2 linked regions of the Homo sapiens genome follow. The protein of the gene in region 2 purifies or fractionates together with the protein of the main gene of each other region. This does not show direct contact. Each region holds a gene or a part of one and is shown on either strand. Other genes may lie near its edges.

The links.
Region 1: the proteins of ZNF558 (region 2) and RCBTB2 purify together in Homo sapiens (affinity purification with mass spectrometry; 2 studies listed by BioGRID and IntAct, with this or other methods). This does not show direct contact.

What each region holds. Positions count from the first base shown.
Region 1 is NC_000013.11:48,492,827-48,502,106, forward strand, and holds part of RCBTB2 (RCC1 and BTB domain-containing protein 2), read right to left. Parts: intron 9,043-9,280; coding exon 8,916-9,042; intron 6,935-8,915; coding exon 6,795-6,934; intron 3,496-6,794; coding exon 3,365-3,495; intron 1-3,364.
Region 2 is NC_000019.10:8,807,349-8,816,628, forward strand, and holds part of ZNF558 (zinc finger protein 558), read right to left. Parts: intron 5,875-9,280; coding exon 5,779-5,874; intron 5,296-5,778; coding exon 5,213-5,295; intron 4,716-5,212; coding exon 3,933-4,715; 3' UTR 1-3,932. UniProt on the Homo sapiens protein: May be involved in transcriptional regulation.

The sequences.
Region 1 (9,280 bases), on a different chromosome or scaffold from region 2:
GTCTCACGTCACTGCCTCATAGCTTTGACTTCAGCACATTTCTCTCTGACTTCCAGGCTTGCTTATCCAATTTGCTTATTAGACATTTCCATTTGGATGTCTAATAGACATCACATACTTCTCATATTCAAAACCAAATTTCTGATATTTCCCCCAAAATGTTGCTCCTATCTTCTATATCTCAATAGATGCCACTTTCATCCTTACAGCTGCTGAGGGACAGAACCTCCTCAGTCGTCTTTTTTTTCCTCACATCTAATCCATCCGCACATCCTGTTGGCTCTACTTTCAAAATGTATTCAAAATCTTAACCACTTTTTACCATCCCCACAGGTGATAACTTGGACCAATCCACCATCATCACTTACTGGATTATACAGCCTCCTAAGTACCCTCCTTCACACACACACACACACACACACACACACACACACTCTTCTCTCTCTCACCCTCTCTCTCTCTCCACACACACACACACACACACACACACTCTCTCTCTCTCTCTCTCTCTCTCTTCTCTTCTCTCTCTCACCCTCTCTCTCTCTCCCTACCTCCCTCCCTCCCTCCTCAACACAGCAGCCAGGAGGCAGGAGGATTACTTCAAATGCCCATCATATCTGCTCCTCTCCAAACCCTCTGATGGCCACTCACCTTGGAACTCTGATTCCTGAAACTTGCCTATGGACTCTGCAGGCCCTGCCTCCTCCCACACACGCCACTGTGCACCTCCACCGCACCATCTCCCTGCCTCATCAGCTACTTCCCTCCCCACTGTGCTCCCTCCACACCGGGCTTGCTTTTCCCAGAACACACCACCCACACCTCCTTCAGGTCTCTGCTTGAGTCACCTGCTCACTGATGTCTTGCCTCCCTGACCATTCTATTTAAAATTTCAACTTTCATCTCAGGATGGCATTCCCTAGGCTGTCTTCCCTGTCTTACTTCTTTCCATATCACTTGTCACCATCTGACATACTATATATCCTATTCATTTATTGATCACCTATCTCCCCTCACCAGAAATTCCCATGAGAGCAGAGATTTTGGATTGTTTTGTTCATTTGCAGTACCCCAGTGCGTAGGGCAGTGCCAGGCATGTAGCAGGCACTCAGTGAATATTTGTTGAATCCATGCATAAATACTCCTGATTTCAAAATACTGAGGACAATGGAGAATTGTAGTTAAACATGCGGTTTTAAAATGTGCCCAATCTTGGACTGTATCCCAGTTTTGCAGTTTACTAGTTTACTCAGATTACTTAATCTTTCCAAGCTTCAGTTTTCTCATTTATAAACTGGATCTAATATAATAATGCCTATGTCATATAAGGTTGTTTTGAGGAGTAAATGAAACATGAACTGTGCTTAGAATAATCCCTGGCTCATATTAATTATGTACTAAGTGACAGTCCAGCATGAGGGATAATAATTTGCTGAAAGAGCCCATTTCTTGCTTATTTGAGCCAGGCAAATCAAATACAGCACTGTTCTTTATTTACGAAAGCTTGTATTTTACATTAAGTACATATACAGTCTATTTTACTTATAGTCTATTATACTAATTTAGGGTACAGCAATTAGCTGGACAGGCTGTAGTACAACAGTGCATCTCTATAGGCAAAACTGAACATCCATGAAAGGGGTATTTAGTAGGTACCTACTCTGTGTCAGACACCGTCCTAGGCGCTGGGGATATGGTTGTGAGCAAAACAAAGTCCCTGCCATGCCTCAAAGAGCTTACTTTCTAGAAAACAGAGAGCTGGAAGGTAGCCAGACAAATAATTCACATAAATAGAGAATATAAAAAAGTATTAAAAATGAAGCCTGATTCAGATGCAAACACCACGTGCCACCATCTTGACATCTGAGATGGCCCTCCATCACCGTGGCTCATCACTGTGATGCTCAAGAATGGACTAGGAAAAGTGCATGGATTTTGTCTGACCATGAAACATTCTGTGTTGTAAGTGCCCAATATGTTATTGCCTTGATATAAAACATTCACTGTGCTGTTAAATGTCATTGTTTTGAGGTAGTACTTTTTTTTTAATGTTAAGTGAAAAAAAATCTAGGTTTCAAGTATTTACAAATATATAATGTGACATAAAACAAAAACTCAGAAGCTGTTATATGAAAGTGCTAATGTTCTCTGGTTGATGAGTCATTACCTTCCTCACTTTTTGTCTTTTACAAATTTTCTTTAATAAGCATAGTATTATTTATGTAAACAGAAAAAAAGTTATAACCTTTCATCTACTAAAATGTCTCTGTTTTCTTTGACCAAAGGAGAGGATATCCTTATACCAAAAGGAAACTGACTCGAAGATGTTACAGCCTGTTTCCTAAAGATTTGGTTCTAAGATTGGTTTTCTTTCCTTTCTTTATTATCATAACAATACATGGTCACTGTAAAAGTTAAAAAAAAATAAGCAAAGAGAAGAAAATAAAAATCACCCACAATCCCACCATTCAATGATAACCACTAAGCATAGTTTTCAGTCTTTTTTTCTATGTAGATAATGAATTTTAGTTTTTTATTCAGCTATTTATACTTTTTCAAAAAATAAAAATAGGATAAGTTTTTCACTTAGTGATATATCTTGAATAGCTGCATAATTTCTTGATATTAACATTTTATAAACAAGCCTCCACTATTCACACTAACCTTTTTCTGATTTTTCAAAATTATAAACTGCTGAAGTAAACACCTTTGAAGCTAAGTCTTTGTGCAAATCCATGATTAATTCCTCAAGATAAATACTTGTGAGTGAATTCCTTGAAGAATTATGTCTTTAATTTAAGGTGCTTAATACATATTATACCAAATTGTTCTCCATACCAATTTGTACTCTCATCAGCAGTTTAGGAGAACACCATTATTCTGATCCTATACATTATCTCTAAAAATATATTCCTGCTTTGACAGGTGAAAAGTTATACCTTGTTTTCATTTATGTTTTTTGTCTATTTATAGAGCCATTTGTTCTTTGGTCCATTTCTTTCAACCAAACTGTTCCTATTGTCTTTTTGTTTTTCACTCTGGTAAACAGACTTCATTATATGTTGCAAGTATTTTTCCCAGTGTCTCATTACTTTGTAAGTTTCTCTATGGTATTTTTAAGTGGATAAAAGTTTCTTATCTTTTTAAATCAGAGCTATAAATCCTTTATGGCTTCTGCCTTTGATGTCCATCCCAACATTATATAAATACTTGCTTATACGTTGTCTAGTACTCTTGTTACTTCATTTTTTAAAAAATATTAAATATTTCCTCTACCCAGACTTTCTTTTAGTTTAAGGTACGAGGCAGACACCTGGGTTCCATTTCTCCAGGAGGCCGGCAGCTGGAAGCAAGCTTTCCTTACCTGTGCATCATACTTCACCGCAGCCGAGAGCAGAGCGATGGCATTCTCCTCGCAGATGCCTTGCTTGATAGTTTGTTGGCAGAGCTTTTTCAAACGATTTTCTCTATAAAATGTAGCCAAGTCTAGCAGTCCTGGCGGAAAGAGGTGTTTATTAGGGGGAGTGATTTCAAGCATCCTGATTTACAGTTGCTCACTCAGCCACTCAGAGATGATTTTGACACTATTTTAGATATAATCCTCAGTGAAGCACTGCATAGACTGATGCTGACTGACACTTACACTTCAGTGTGGGGCTCTACCCAGGATGGCAGCCAAGCTGAGCAAACATGATACACAAATCATTAGCTGTTGAAAAACAGGAGCACAGGGAAAATAGCTTTAATATTTTTTTCCTAGGAAAAAAGCATGTGCGCCTTGAATGACCCCTTCCCCTGCAATCTCAATGTCAGCTTCTCCTGGGCCACTCCCAGGAGCACACACACATGCTGTAAGAGTGCCCGCCGTGAAAAGAAAGAAAAGAAAAGAAGAAAAGAAAACAAAAGAGAAGAAAAGAAGAGAGGACAGGAGAGGGAGGGGAGGGGAAGGGAGGGGAGAAGAGAAGAGGGGAGGGGAGAGGAGGGGAGGGGAGAGGAGGGGAGGGGAGAGGAGGAGAGGGGAGAGGAGGGGAGGGGAGACCCTTTCATGGACACGTGTCTTCCTCCTGTTACCCTATCCCACTGCTCCTCTCTACAGCAAAACTCCTAGACAGAGCTATCTGTATCTGCTGTCTCCATTTTCCCACCTCCCATTCTGACCTCAAGCCATTACAAGCAGAACCCCATCCCCACCACTACTGCAGTCACACCCTTGGTGGTCACACCTGTGGCAGTCACAGTGGCTTTGAGGGTGCAATATTCTCTGGTTTCCTCTTACTCGACATTTACACAGAATTTGATATGGTTGATAATGCTCTCCTTAGGACACTTTGTCACTTGCTTGCATTTTTCTTCTCTTTAATTAGTTGCTCCTCAGTTCTCTAGGCTGGATCATTTTTCCTGACTTCCAAATGTTTGAGTGCCCCAGGGTTAAATCCTCAGACACTTTCCTCACTTACTTCCCAAAACCCCAGCCCCAGGGTTTTAAATATCATCTATATATGCAGGTGAGTCCTGTTATATTACCTGTCACCTATTTTCAAGTAATTCAACGTAGACTGGGTGAGGTGACATATGTAAATTAATTTTAATCTACCCCAAGGAATGATAGGAAGTACTCTAATTGAAGCAGTCAATCAGCATCTGAAAGATCCTATTTGTTTTTCTGAATCTTCATTACAGGATTTGTAATTAGCATAAAGAATGTCAGAATTAGTTTGTCATTGCTGAAATGAGTGGTAGCCAGGATCAAAAGGCTAGCTGAATCCGGCTACTAGAACACTGTCATGTCCACCTCAAGCTAACTTTTCATGCAAGGTACTTAATAGAGTGTACGAAGTATAAAGAGCAGGGATTTCATCAATTTTACCATATTAATTGTTTTTGTGTCTATCTGCTAATAAATCTTATACATGTGGTAGACTTTGGTTGGAAACTTGCTTTTTTAATAACAAATATTATCAAAGTTATAGAGGAAAGACAGATAGCCCACTGGAGGACACTGAAATCTTGAGTTGTGAATGGCTTCATTGTTTTTGGCCCCAAGCTTCAGACACACATGCAAGCTGCACTGCCCTAAGAGAGGACTCTGCCCCAAGCCCCAGCTCTGCGCCTCCTCCACGCACACCTTCAGCACAGGGTGGCTAAGGAGCCACATGCCCACTTCTAGACCACACTTTGGGTACCTGGGAACCTGGGACTGCCTGCATAATTGGCCTTGAGGCCACATGTGTGGGTATTTCCTCCCTTAGACCCCACCACCAATGTGCAGACCCCCTGGCCCAAAAGGGTAACCTGGGTTGGGGGTGGATAGAGCTTGGAATGCAAGCTAGGGTGCCCACACACCCTTCTGCTGGAGGAGGGGTCTGTCCTGCCTGTGCCATTGGGTTCTGGCACAAGAAGTCCTGCAACTCTAAATGTCAACTAAAATTGAAACCTGTCCTTTCAGTTCTTAATGAAATTACATTTTTCAAGGTGGGAGGATTGGACATATTTTTATCTGAAGTTCACTAGCTTGACATATAACTTTAAGTTTTTAGACATATGGAACATAGGTCTCCATTTGGAGTCTTGGCTACAGCCCCACAAATGTTAGTGGTGGGCCGATAAAAAACTGCCACTCGCGGCCGGGCGCAGTGGCTCACGCCTGTAATCCCAGCACTTTGGGAGGCCAAGATGGGCGGATCACCTGAGGTCGGGAGTTCAAGACCAGCCTGACCAACACGGAGAAACCTCGTTTCTACTAAAAATACAAAATTAGCCAGGCGTGGTGGTGCATGCCTGTAATCCCAGCTACTCGAGAGGCTGAGGCAGGAGAATCGCTTGAAACCGGGAGGCGGAGGTTGTGGTGAGCGGAGATCGTGCCATTGCACTCCAGCCTGGGCAACAAGAGTGAAACTCTGTCTCAAAAAAAAAAAAATTATCACTTGGGTATCTAATGGGAAGCTCAAACTCCTTTGACTTTCAAAGTCCAGAGCAAGCCTGTTGTTCTCTATCTTCCTCACCTCAGTGCCATTAAGGCAGCTACCCAGGCCAAGTACCTCAGTGCAGCCATCCTTCTCTCTCAACTCACACCTCTCATCCCATCTATCAACAAATCCCATCAGCAACCTCTTTAAAATATATCTAGAATCTGATCTCTTTTCAATACTTCCACTGCTATACAACCCCAACCCAGGAGACCATCATCTCACACCTGAACCAATATAATAACTGATGTTTTAAACACAGATCACATCTCTCCTGTGGCAGAAGCTGCTAGTTGCCTCTCTCCCGACCCCCACCCCAACACACACACACACACACACACACACACACACTCTCTCTCTCTCTCTCTCTCTCTCTCACACACACACACACATCCATTCTTCCTTTCTACTGAAACCACAGAATTTTTAGCCAAGCTACGGCCCTCTGGAAATGCCCATTTTCCCAGCCTCCTAAGCCACTGGGCACAGACTTGACTGACTCAGGCCCACAGTCTGAAATAAGTGGAATTCCTGGGCCCTGCTGGTGGAGACACGGGGATCTGCTGCATGGCCCTCAGTCTCTGTCCCTTCCTCCATGCTGCTGCCTGCAATGCTCCACGGTGGTGATGATTTGATTCTTCTCTCTCTTATCTGTCCAGTCAACCTTTGTAATAAAGTAGTAACAAGGGAAACGTGTTTGGATTCAACACACACAAAAAGAAATACTTCTGTAATTACCCTCACAGTGACTTTCTTTTAGGTTCTATAGAAACCACCTTGTCAGTTCCTCAACATTTTGCCAAGTTTTTGGAAGTCTTTGGCAATTACCTACTGCCTCCTCAGGAGAAAGGCTGATGCTGTCTGTGTATAGGTATTCCAGGAAGGCCCGGTAAACAGGATATGAAAATTCACTCATTTCTACAATATCATCCTCGTTATCTTCCAATGACGAACGAAAATGCTCACATCTGAAGGAAAAAAGCAGTATGTCAGGTCCTAGCTTCCCAGCCAGGACAGATGGCCTCTGTGAGGACCACGTTCTTCTCTCGAAGGTGCACGCTGGCACGTCCCTGCTGTGGCTCCTCACTTTCTTTGCTGGCCAGGGTTTTCAAACAATCATCTATTCAGCAAGGCTGTATATACAAACCTGCTGCCAGGGGTGGCCTGGGAAGCAGCCCCAATGGCCGTGCTAATGGGGACAGAGCTGGGCTCCCTGGCATCTCTCTCACACCACAACCACTGTCAGCATTTAGAGAAATCAGTGGGTTTATTTTTATAAAATCTAAGTAATTCTGTTTCCTCACTCCATTACGGGTTGAATGATGTCCTCTAAAAATTCCTGTGTTGAAGTCCTAATGGCCAATACCTCAAAATGTGACCTTACTAGGAAAGAGAGCCTTTAAAGAGGTAATCAAGTTATAAGAAGGTCACTAGGGTGGGCCCTAATCCAATATGACTGGCATCTTTATAAAAAGGGGAAATTTGGACAGGGCGCGGTGGCTCACGCCTGTAATCCCAGCACTTTGGAAGGCCGAGGCGGGTGGATCACGAGGTCAGGAGTTTGAGACCAGCCTGGCCAATATGGTGAAACCCCATCTCTACTAAAAATACAAAAATTAGCCAGGCATGGTGGTGTGCGCCTGTAATCCCAGCTACTCAGGAGGCTGAGGCAGGAGAATCACTTGAACCTGGGAGGAGGAGGTTGCAGTGAGCCGAGATCAGGCCACTGCACTCCAGCCTGGGCAATAGAGAAAGACTCTGCCATCTAAAAAAAATAAGGTGGGGGGAAATTTGGACACAGACATGCACAAAGGGAGAATGCCACATGCTGACTGGAGTTAAGCAGCCACATGCCAAGGAAGGCCAAAGACTGTCTGCAAATCCCCAGCAGCTAGGAAAGAGGCAGGAACAGATTCTCACTCACAGCCTCACAAGAAACCCATCCAGGTGACACTTTTGATCTGGGATTTCCAGCCTCCAGAACTTTATGTTGCTTAAGCCACCCGGGCCATAGTACTGTGTTACAGCAAACAAATCCACCCCCCTTCTTTCATGCAGGTTGATGTGATATAGAGAGAGTGAGCAAACGCTGCACAGCTTGATCTTACTAAAGAGGAACTTGAGACTAAAATGCTGTGTTGAGTGTGTGACTCACTGCAGTAGGATTTAAATATCTGTTACACAACAACATAATGAATTTCAAAATCATCATGTAAAAGAAAGAAGCCAAGCACAAATGAATGCATCCTGTATCATCCCATCTAAATACACTCTAGAAAATGCTAACTCAGCTACAGTGACAGAAGGAGCTGCGGTCACCCAGGGCTAGGACATGAGGGGTCTTTGAAGGGTGATGGGAATGTTCTCTGTCTGGATGTGGGGCAGTGGTTTCACAGGCGTAGACATGTGTCAGCACTCATCAAACTGCACATTTGAAATGCACACAGCTCATTGCTCAAAAACATTCACAAATGTGATTTTTTAAAATCTCTGTGCTAGCCTCACTATAGACCTTTTTGGTCTGGAAAGGCCTTGATCTTCTCTTTCTTAAACCATCTAAAAGTACGCCACAAGTGATTATAAGAAGGTGATTATTAAGAGCTGAGCTTGATTCCCAGGCAGAAACGGTAACTGATGGACGTCCAAGTATCAATACAGTGTTCAGAGCACAGGACACACTTGGAGCGTGCGCTGGCTGCTCCCTGCTGCCAAGGTGACCACGCCACTTTTCAAGCCTAAGGAACGCCTATGGTACTGGTTCCCGGAACCACACAACCTGTGTTATTTCTTGTTTCATGTATATTTCTCCCCGCTCCACTGTATGCTTGTAAGAGCAAAAACAGCCTTACAATTTTTCTTGATTACTGAGGTGCCTAATATAGTTGGACACTTAGAATATAATTGTTGAACGAATTACTTTTCTCAATTCTCAAATAAATGATTCCTTACCGAATCTTGAGAAGGACTTTATGTGCATAAATGTACTTTCCATCAACTAGAAACTTCAGGTCTGCAGTGTCCGGGTTGTCAAATTCCCTCTTCAGTGACTCAGCCACTGTGAGGTGGTCATCAGGTTCTAGGAGAATAATGCAAATGCTTCCAGAGTTAGCTACAGACATAATGAACACACAGGACAGGATATGGCACTACTCTACTGGTACTCATGAAAGTACCAATTCCTCAAAATAACTGAGCAACTGAGCAATGGATTTTTTCCCCTGAAGACAGATTTGCATCTCTGTAATCATTAAGAATAAGAATCTCACAAATATCTGCTTATAAATCTGGCAAAATAACAAGAAAAAGTCCCAAGC
Region 2 (9,280 bases):
CTGAGTAGACCCTTTATGAAAACTCTACTTGAATTGTCCTAGTCTGTGGGTGTCAACCTGAGTTCCTGCTGGGACCCTGACTGATGTGCCAACTCACTGAAATAAGGAAAAGTCCTAACAATGTCTCAGAAAACCCAACAAGATCAGGATCTACCATGTCTCTGACCACATCATCTTTTACTGCTCCCTCATCACCCCTTTGTTCCACTCCAGCTGTATTGGCCTCCTTGTTGTGGGCCTTTGCATGCCAACACTACTCTTGCAAGACAAATTCATATGACTCACTGTCCCAACTTGTTGAGATCTCCGCTCAAATGCTCCTTACCAAGAGGCTTTCTTTTCCTAGTTATATAAAATTATTATTCCCAACCCCCCTTAACTCTCCTAAAATGCTTTTTTTTCCTATAACTCTATAATACCATATTTTCTTGATTTTTCTATAATCTGTTCCTCCTCCATTAGGTGAAGTATTTCAATGGCAAAACTTTGCCTGGCACACAGAACATACTCCGTTAATAGGGTAGTGGTTAAGTGCATGGACTGTCTGGGTTCAGATCTTGGCTCTACCATTTACCAGTCAGTGAATGCAGGCAAGTAACTTAAGTGTATCATACCAGTTTTCTCATCTGTAAACTGGGGATAATAACATTACATACTTAAGTTTATAATGCATACTGAGTTAATACTTATATGTCATTTAGAAGGGGGCCTGATCTATGGGAAGTGCAATATAAATGTCTGACCATCAGGAGTTCGAGACTAGCCTGGCCAACATGGTGAAACCCCATCTCTACTAAAAATATAAAAAAATTACCTGGGCGTGGTGGCAGGTGCCTGTAATCCCAGCTACTCAGGAGGCTGAGGCAGGAGAATTGCTGGAACCTGGGAGGCCAAGGTTGCAGTGAGCCGAGATCGCACCATTGCACTCCACCCTTGATGACAAGAGTGAAACTCCATCTAAAATAAATAAATAAATAAATAAATGTTTGACCATTTATTATTAATGCATTACAATACTTTGCTATGTAAAAATATCATCTCCACATAAAAAGGAATACAGAATACCTAATCCTGTATGCATCTAGTTACATAATGTCAAAATATATAAAAATGACAAAATTACAGTGTTAATACATAAACATAATGGAAGAGTTTACCACACCTCTATCACTAAATAAGGTTAGAAAAAGAAATCTGAACATACGTACTGTACTTGGAAATACAATTAAGTTGCATTAATGTTCATATACCCTATATCCAAATATTAGAGAATATACATTGTTTTCAAAGAAACAACATGGGTAAAACTTGACCAATTTATAGGTTTACCAGTTAGATTCTGCATCCTGCTGGAAGTTAACAGAACACCACCTCAAAAACAAACAACAGATCATGTTGGCTTCAATCAGTTAGGGGTTTCTTTTTTTAAAAATATTTATTTGTTTATTTTGAGATGGAGTCTCGCTCTGTTGCCAGGCTGGAGTGCACTGGCGCCATCTTGGCTCACTGCAACCTCTACCTCCCAGGTTCAGGCAATTCTCCTGTCTCAGTTTCCCGAGTAGCTGGGAATACAGGTGTGCACCACCACACCCAGCTAATCTTTATACTTTTAGTAGAGATAGGGTTTCACCACGTTGGCCAGGATGGTCTCAATCTGTTGACCTCATGATCCACCCACCTCAGCCTCTCAAAAGTGCTGGGATTAAAGGCGTGAGCCACCACACCCAGCCTAGGGGTTTCTTTTAGTCACATAAGAAGTATAAGAATAAGGAGTCCAGAGCAGATGCAGCCAATCGGAGGCTCCTGGAGAGCCCAAAGCATTGTGATTTTTGGCTGCACTTTGGTTTCTGTCATTGTGGTCAAAAAGAAGCTCTTCAAACTCTAGACCTTGAGGCCACTTTCCAAGAGACAGAATGGGTGAGGTGAATGGAAAATATGTGAGGAGAACAAGCCAGGAGATGTTCCACACAGTGACTTCGACTTACTTCTCATTGCCAGGGGAGTGCGAAAAAACCCGCCTGGGCTTCAGGAAAAACTATAAGATTGAGAACTTTCGATATTGTTCACAGACAACTTGAACAACATGTTTGTTTCTTTAAACGAATAAACTGAAGAGAACGGACACTGGGAAAGAAACCAACAGTATTTGGCATACCAAGATAGAGAGAAAATAATCAGTATCATAAAGCTCATGTACTCTGCCAAAAATACCACTACATTAGAAAAATGTGTTTATAAATACTAATTTCCATTATGATAAACTGAATCACTCAGAAGGTATTTGGAAATAACTTTTTGAATATGCAATGTGTGGATGTCTTTAACAAGCAAATTAATTATAATAAATACATTGCATTAAAATTATGAAATATGTTAATGTTTATTTTAGGGAACAGCTATACACAAATGTTTATATTAAAAGAAAAAAAGACTAAAAAAATTAATGAGCCAGCAGTCCAATCTACAGATGAGACACTGATAAAGGATATCCCACACTCAAAACAGTGATTATACTTTTTGTTCCCAGTGAAAATTGTGGCCACTCAGTGAAGAGTTCAGGCTGAGGCATCCTAACACTGATTACATTCCTAGGGGTTTCTCCATATAAGTTCTCTCATATACAAGAAAGAGAAGAATCACTGAAAAATTTTCCAATATTAATATACTCATAGGTTTTGCATCCAGGGAGAAGTTCCATATTTTCCCTAACACAGAGGCATCACTGAAGGCTTTCTCTTCTTCTTTATATTTCAAGTTTCTCTGTAGTGTGAATGCTCACAAGTTTCCTAACAAATGTAGAAAAACAGAAAGCTCTCCAATATTGATGATGTTCAATGGGGCATTCTCTCCAGAATTAATTCTCAAGTCCCTTAAAAACCGATAGAACATTCAAGGCTTTCCCATAGTCACTGCAGAATACCACACTATAGTTTGCTCAGTAATGTGAACACTTTTGCTGTAGGGTATTCCGCATTTCTGAGTGTTGTTCCATTGTGTGATTTCCAGTGCGTCTTAAGGGATGACTGTCACTGAAGCCTTCTGAGACCTTCACAGGTTTTCTCCCTTAGTGTGAGCTGTCACATGAATCCCTGCTGATAGCACTGAAGGCTTTCTACAGCTGTTCCATTCTTCAGGATTCTCTCAGTACATAATCTTCTGGGCCCATGAAGGTGAGAATTCGAGCTGAGAGCTTTACCATACAGATTGTCCTCAAAAGGTTTCTCTTCAGAGTGAATTAATAGGAGTTACTGAATGCTATTTCATATTGATTAGAGTAGAAGGATGATGTGCTGAGGGCTTTTCTTCATTAATTCCATGGCAAATTTCCCAGATGCTTCTGAGTTATCTGTTTCCTGGTATTCATACCTTCTGCAGTCTCTCACATTGTATCAGGATTGGTGTGTTGTGAGACCAACACAATAGGAAATAAGTGAAAGCTTAGCAGTCCTCCTGAGGATAGGTCATAAAAGCCATTTTGGCCTCTGTATTGGTCCTCTCTTGGATCACTAACCTTGGCGAGAACTTATTGCCAAATTGTCAAGGAGCTGGGCCTTGTAAAGAGGCCTACATGGTAATGACTGAAGGTCCCCTGACAACAACCAACATCAACTTTCCAGGCATGTGAATAAGTCATCTTGGAAGTGGACTGTTCATCAGTAAAGATGTTAGATGACTATAGCTTTGGCTGACATCTTGATTGTAAGTAAAGGCATGAGAGATCCTGCAGTGTAACTACAGAGATAAGCTGTTCTTGAATTCCTGATCTGTAGAAATTGTTAGAGAATAAACATTTCGTGTTTGAAGCCACAAAATTTGCGGGGATCATTTGTTATGCTGCAACAAATAACTTATATATCCAGTGTGAGCTCTCTCAAACTATCTTAGGGATGAAAGATCAATGAGTGCTTTCCTCCAGAAGTTCCTGCAGTAATTCATATCCATCTATTATGTATTCTCTTGTGCACAGAAAGATAGGAGTTACTTGTGAAGGATTTCCCACAATGATTACATTCATAGGGTTTTTCTCCAGTGTGAGTTCTTAAGTGTTTCTTCACAGCTGAGAGATTATTAAAGGCTTTTCCACAGTCACTGCACTCGTAGGGTTTCTCTCCGGTATGTATTCTCTTGTGCACAGTAAGAGAAAAGCTACTGCTGAAGGATTTCCCACACTCGTTACATTCATAGGGTTTTTCTCCAGTATGAGTTCTTACGTGCTGTGTCAGATAGGAGCTCTTCCTGAAGGTTTTCCCACAATCGTGACATTCATAAGGTTTCTCCCCTGTATGAATGCTATTGTGCCCAGTGAGAGAGGACCTTGTGCTGAAAGCTTTTCCACACTGATTACATTCATGGTGATTCTCCCCCGTGTGAATCCTCTTGTGGCTTTTGAGGTTACAACTGGTGCGGAAAACGTGAAAACACTGGTTACATTCATAGGGTTTTTCTCCAGTGTGAATTCTCAAATGCAGTCTAAGGGATGAGGGATCACTAAATGCTTTCCCACAGTGATTGCATTCATAGGGTTTCTCCCCATTATGGATTCTCTTATGAATAGTAAGGTAAGATCTGCTACTGAAGGACTTCCCACATTGACTACAGTCATAGGGTTTTTCTCCAGTATGAATTCTCTTGTGCTGAGTTAGGTTAGATTTCGTGCTGAAGACTTTAAAACACTGATTACATTCATTGAGTTTCACTCCACGATGACTTCTTTCCTGTGGATTAAGAGATGAATGATAACTATAATTTATAATATTTGAAATACTTAATGTTCTCCTAGGAATCTTCTCTCCCAGGAATTCTGTTACATTATTATAATTGATATTTTGGCTACTTTCAGTGGTTGTATGTGATTTCTGCCCAGTTTTAGCTCTAAGAAAGTTAAAAAACATAGATGCTTTGCCACAAGTCCTTATCAGATGCACAAAACATTTTCTGATAACGTGTGGATGAAGTTTTGTTCCAACAGTCAATATCTGAGCCACAGATAGGAAATATTTACTTGTGGGAACTCTCCGTGAAGAAATAAGTTTGGAGCTAACTCACACTTCTCTAAATATTTATAATTTTCACAGTGTCTCTCCAGGAACACAGCATTCTCAATTATAAATGACACTTTCCTTTAATGCCTCTCCTGGTTATTTTGTGCCCTTTCTAAACTTAAGGCATTCTCCTACTGTAGAAAACCAGAAATCACCCATGTTAGTCTTACCGTTTTTACACCTTTAGACTGTTCTTTTCTGAAAACATTCTTCTTAGGAGTTAACCATTTGGCTTTAAGTAGAGTCTCCAAATCTGAAACAAATTGAAAAGAAATTTAGGTTGATGGAGAAAAGAAATGGAAAAGTGTACACATGAGTAAAGGCAGATTCTGAGGGATCAGGGTTTTTGAGGATGTTTGCAACAAAGAGGATTTGGTTATGAAAATTTTAGGTATTAATTTTAAAAAAGGATTCTAGACAAATTGAGATTGATCACAGATTGACAAGAGGAGTGATCAGGAATGCAAAGTGGAAAGGAACTTGACTGAAATTTTCAAAAGAGTTGCATCTTTGTTTCTTCCCTGAGCCCAAAGTGAAGTATGAGATGATGACAAGGGAGTTAGAGAGAAAAGAAAGGACATGAGGAAGCTCACACCAAATGTTCTCGTGCATGTTTGTCAGGAACAGGGTATTTTACAAAGTTCCCTGATTGACATGAACTAATGTAATACTCCCAACCCCCAAGTCACTGGCCAGAGCTATTCCTCACAAGGGCTCATATCCACCTGGTGCTCACCTGGACAGGTGCTTGGTAGAATTCCTCTTTCCTCTGTCACCACCTTCTTGTCTTGTTCCAACTGGGATATCAGACTGGGTTTATTAACACGACACCCTATTTATGGAAACAATACACATGATATAGGTAACAGTGCTGGGGACAACCAAGTCCATGAAAGAAAGCCAACATTTATGAAGATGGAAAAGTGTGACTTTAGGAGCAGTGAAATAAATTATGCCTTAATTCTTTTCTTTTTTTTATTTATTTTGAGATGGAGTCTTGCTCTGTCGCCCGGGTTGAAGTGCAGTGGCATGATCTCGGCTCACTGCAACCTCTGCCTTCCAGGTTCAAGCGATTCTCCTGCCTCAGCCTCCCAAGTAGTTGGGACTACAGGTGCACACAACCACGCCCGGCTAATTTTTGTATTTTTAGTAGAGACGGGGTTTCACCATATTGGCCAGGCAGGTCTTGATCTCTTGATCTCCTGGCCTCGTGATCCACCCACCTTGGCCTCCCAAAGTGCTGGGATTACAGGCATGAGCCACCACGCCCTGCCAATTATACCTTAATTCTAGTGCATATGGTAACTCTCACTGAACAAAAATGCAACAAGCATATTCAACTAGATATTCAGGGTGATAGGGCATAAACAGCCCCAGAAGGCCATGCCTGAGTTCAAATGCACACTTCAGAGGCCCCAAAACTTTTAACCATGAAGAATATAAAGTCAGGACAAGAAATAGATCTTCAGTTCATAAGGCAGGAATTAGAGACTGCCCATGAGGGTGGGACCATATGGTCCCATTCATCACTGTACTCCCAAGTCACTGCACAGACCTAGGAACACAGAGGTGCTCAAGAAAACTTGAAAGAAGTGATGACAGTGACAGTGGTGGAGGACGGAATTCCAAACGTTCATCCCTCCACAAAAACAGTGAGTAAACTGGCAAAAGCGGTCCGAATCAACTTTATCGGAATTCTTGAAATGTATCAAAAGTCCACAGCAATCAGGAGAATGCCTTCTCAGAAAACCCAGCTGAATCTGGGTAAGAGAGCTTTATGATACTTTAAATGGACCTCTTTCCCCTGCTTTTTCTACAACCTTGAAGACAACAGCCTGCATTCCTAGTACTTGCAGGGAGCAGAACAGACCTTACTCTGTGGTTGCTCTTCCTGACCTGTCTGGTGGTTCCCTGAAGGACTGGCTCAAAGGGTTGTCTTTATTTATCTAACTCCAAATTCTTTCAGGACTGAGCTGGTTACCTGGAACACACGTGATCGACAGATGTAAAGGTAAATGTATTAGTCAGTACTGCTTGAGGCAAGAGAAAACAGTAGAAGCAAACAAAAGACTAACCGAAAAGCCTGAAAGGAAAAATGGGGAAAAAGATGTTTGGGGAGTAGGACTTTGAAAATCTTCCTCATATTCTTAAGAACCTGTAATTCCAAGCACATACTCAGGGCTGGGAGCATGCCCAGAAAATACCTGAGAAGGCACAAAACCCTCATCTTTTGGTGACCTTCAGGCTCTGCACAAGCCAGAAATGAAGGTCAAGGCACAGTTAAATGCCTACCTAAGTATTAAAGGCATGTCCCTATGTACACACAGAGCCCACGTAAAGAGACTAGAAGTTTTTTCCTTTTTTGTTCCAGGCCTTCAAATCACTATATGACCATTACGCTATCAGAAAAGAGACTTCGGTGGCCACACATGACAAATACAGACATTACAAAGTTAGTTCTGAAATAGAACTATTGTATATTCTAACAGGAGTTTACAATATATGATATTCTACAACTTTAGAACACACAATAGTTCTATTTCACAACTAACTTTAGAACTGTTGTATGTTCTATAGATACAATACCAACTACAACAAGTAAAACAAACTCTGGAGATGGGGAAAAGTCTGATTCCCAAATTGCTATATTATAATATTCCAAATACCCTAGTTTCAACAAAATAATTATGAGGGAGGCAAGGAAACAAACGTTGGGCCCATTACAAGAAAAATGAAGCTGGTAGAAATTGTCCCTTCAGAAGTTCAAACACTGGACTTAACTAGACAAGTAAAATAAGTCAACTATTTAAAATCTGCTAAAAGATGTAAAAGAAATATGTATAAAGAACTAAAGGAAACCATGAATACAAATTTTCATCAAATGAAAAACAGCAAAATAGGTACAACTATGGCATATCAAAAAAATACAAAAAATGGAAAACATTAAGAGACAGAAACTTTAGGAAGGCAAATAAAAAAATTTGAGTTGAAAAGTACAATAGCTGAAATGAAACATTCAGAACATATCTGAGCAGGCAGAAGACAAAATTGGTGACCATGAAGATAGGACAATCGATATTATCCAGTCTGAGGAGCAGAAAAAAGAGAGATGCCAGGTGCAATGGCTCATGTATAATCCCAGCATTTTGGGAGGCTGAGGCAGGAGGACTGCTTGCAACCAGGAGTTCAAGACCAGCCTGGGAAACATGGTGAGATCCTGACTCTACAAAAAATTAAAAAAATTAGCTGGGCATGGTGATGCACGTCTCTAGCCATGCCTCCCTATTTGGGAGGCTGAGGTGGGAGGATCACTTGAGCCCAGGAGGTCAAGGCTGCAGTAAGCCACAATCACTCTGCTGCACTCCGGCCTAGGTGACAGAGTGAGTGAGAACCTGTCTCAAAGATAAAGAGAGAGAGAGAGAGAGAGAGAATGTGAGTTTTAAAAAAGATGAACAGAGCCTGAGACCTTTGGGATACCATCGAACCTACCAACATATATAGGATGTGGAGAACCAGAGAGATGTAAAGAGAGAAAAGGGTGAGAAGGTTGAAGAAATAATGGCTAAAAACTTCCCAAAATTTGATGAAAGGCACAAATGTACAAATCCAAGAAGCTCAACAAACTCAAGTAGAATAAATTTGAAAAAATAGAGATTCATACTGAAACACACACACACACACACACACATTTTTTGAGCCAGGGTTTTATTCTGTCACCCACGCTGGAGTGCAGTGGTGTGATCATGGCTCACTGCAGCCTTAATCTCCTGGGGTCAAGCAATCCTTCCACCTCAGCCTTCCAAGAAGCTGGGACCATAGGTGTGCACCAGCACGTCTGACTAATTTTTTAATTTTTTGTAGAGACAGGGTCCAAGTTGCCCAGGCTGGTCTCATACTCCTGACCTCAAGGGGTCCTTCTGCCTCAGCCTCCCAAAGTGTTGGGATTATAGGCGTGAACCATTGCAGCCGGCATCAAACACATATTAATCAAACTGTTGAAAGACAAAGGCAGCATCCTAAAAACAGCAAGACGGAGATGACTTATGACGTAAACAGGATCCTCGGTAAGATTACAGTCAATTTCTCAATAGAAACCATGGAAACCACCAAGCGCTGGAGTGGTACATTCAAAGAGCTGAGAAAAAATGGCAACCAAGAATTCTATATCTGGCAAAACTCCCCTTCAAAAATAAAGAAATGAAGACCTTCCCATAAACAAAGACTGAGTGTTTGTCACT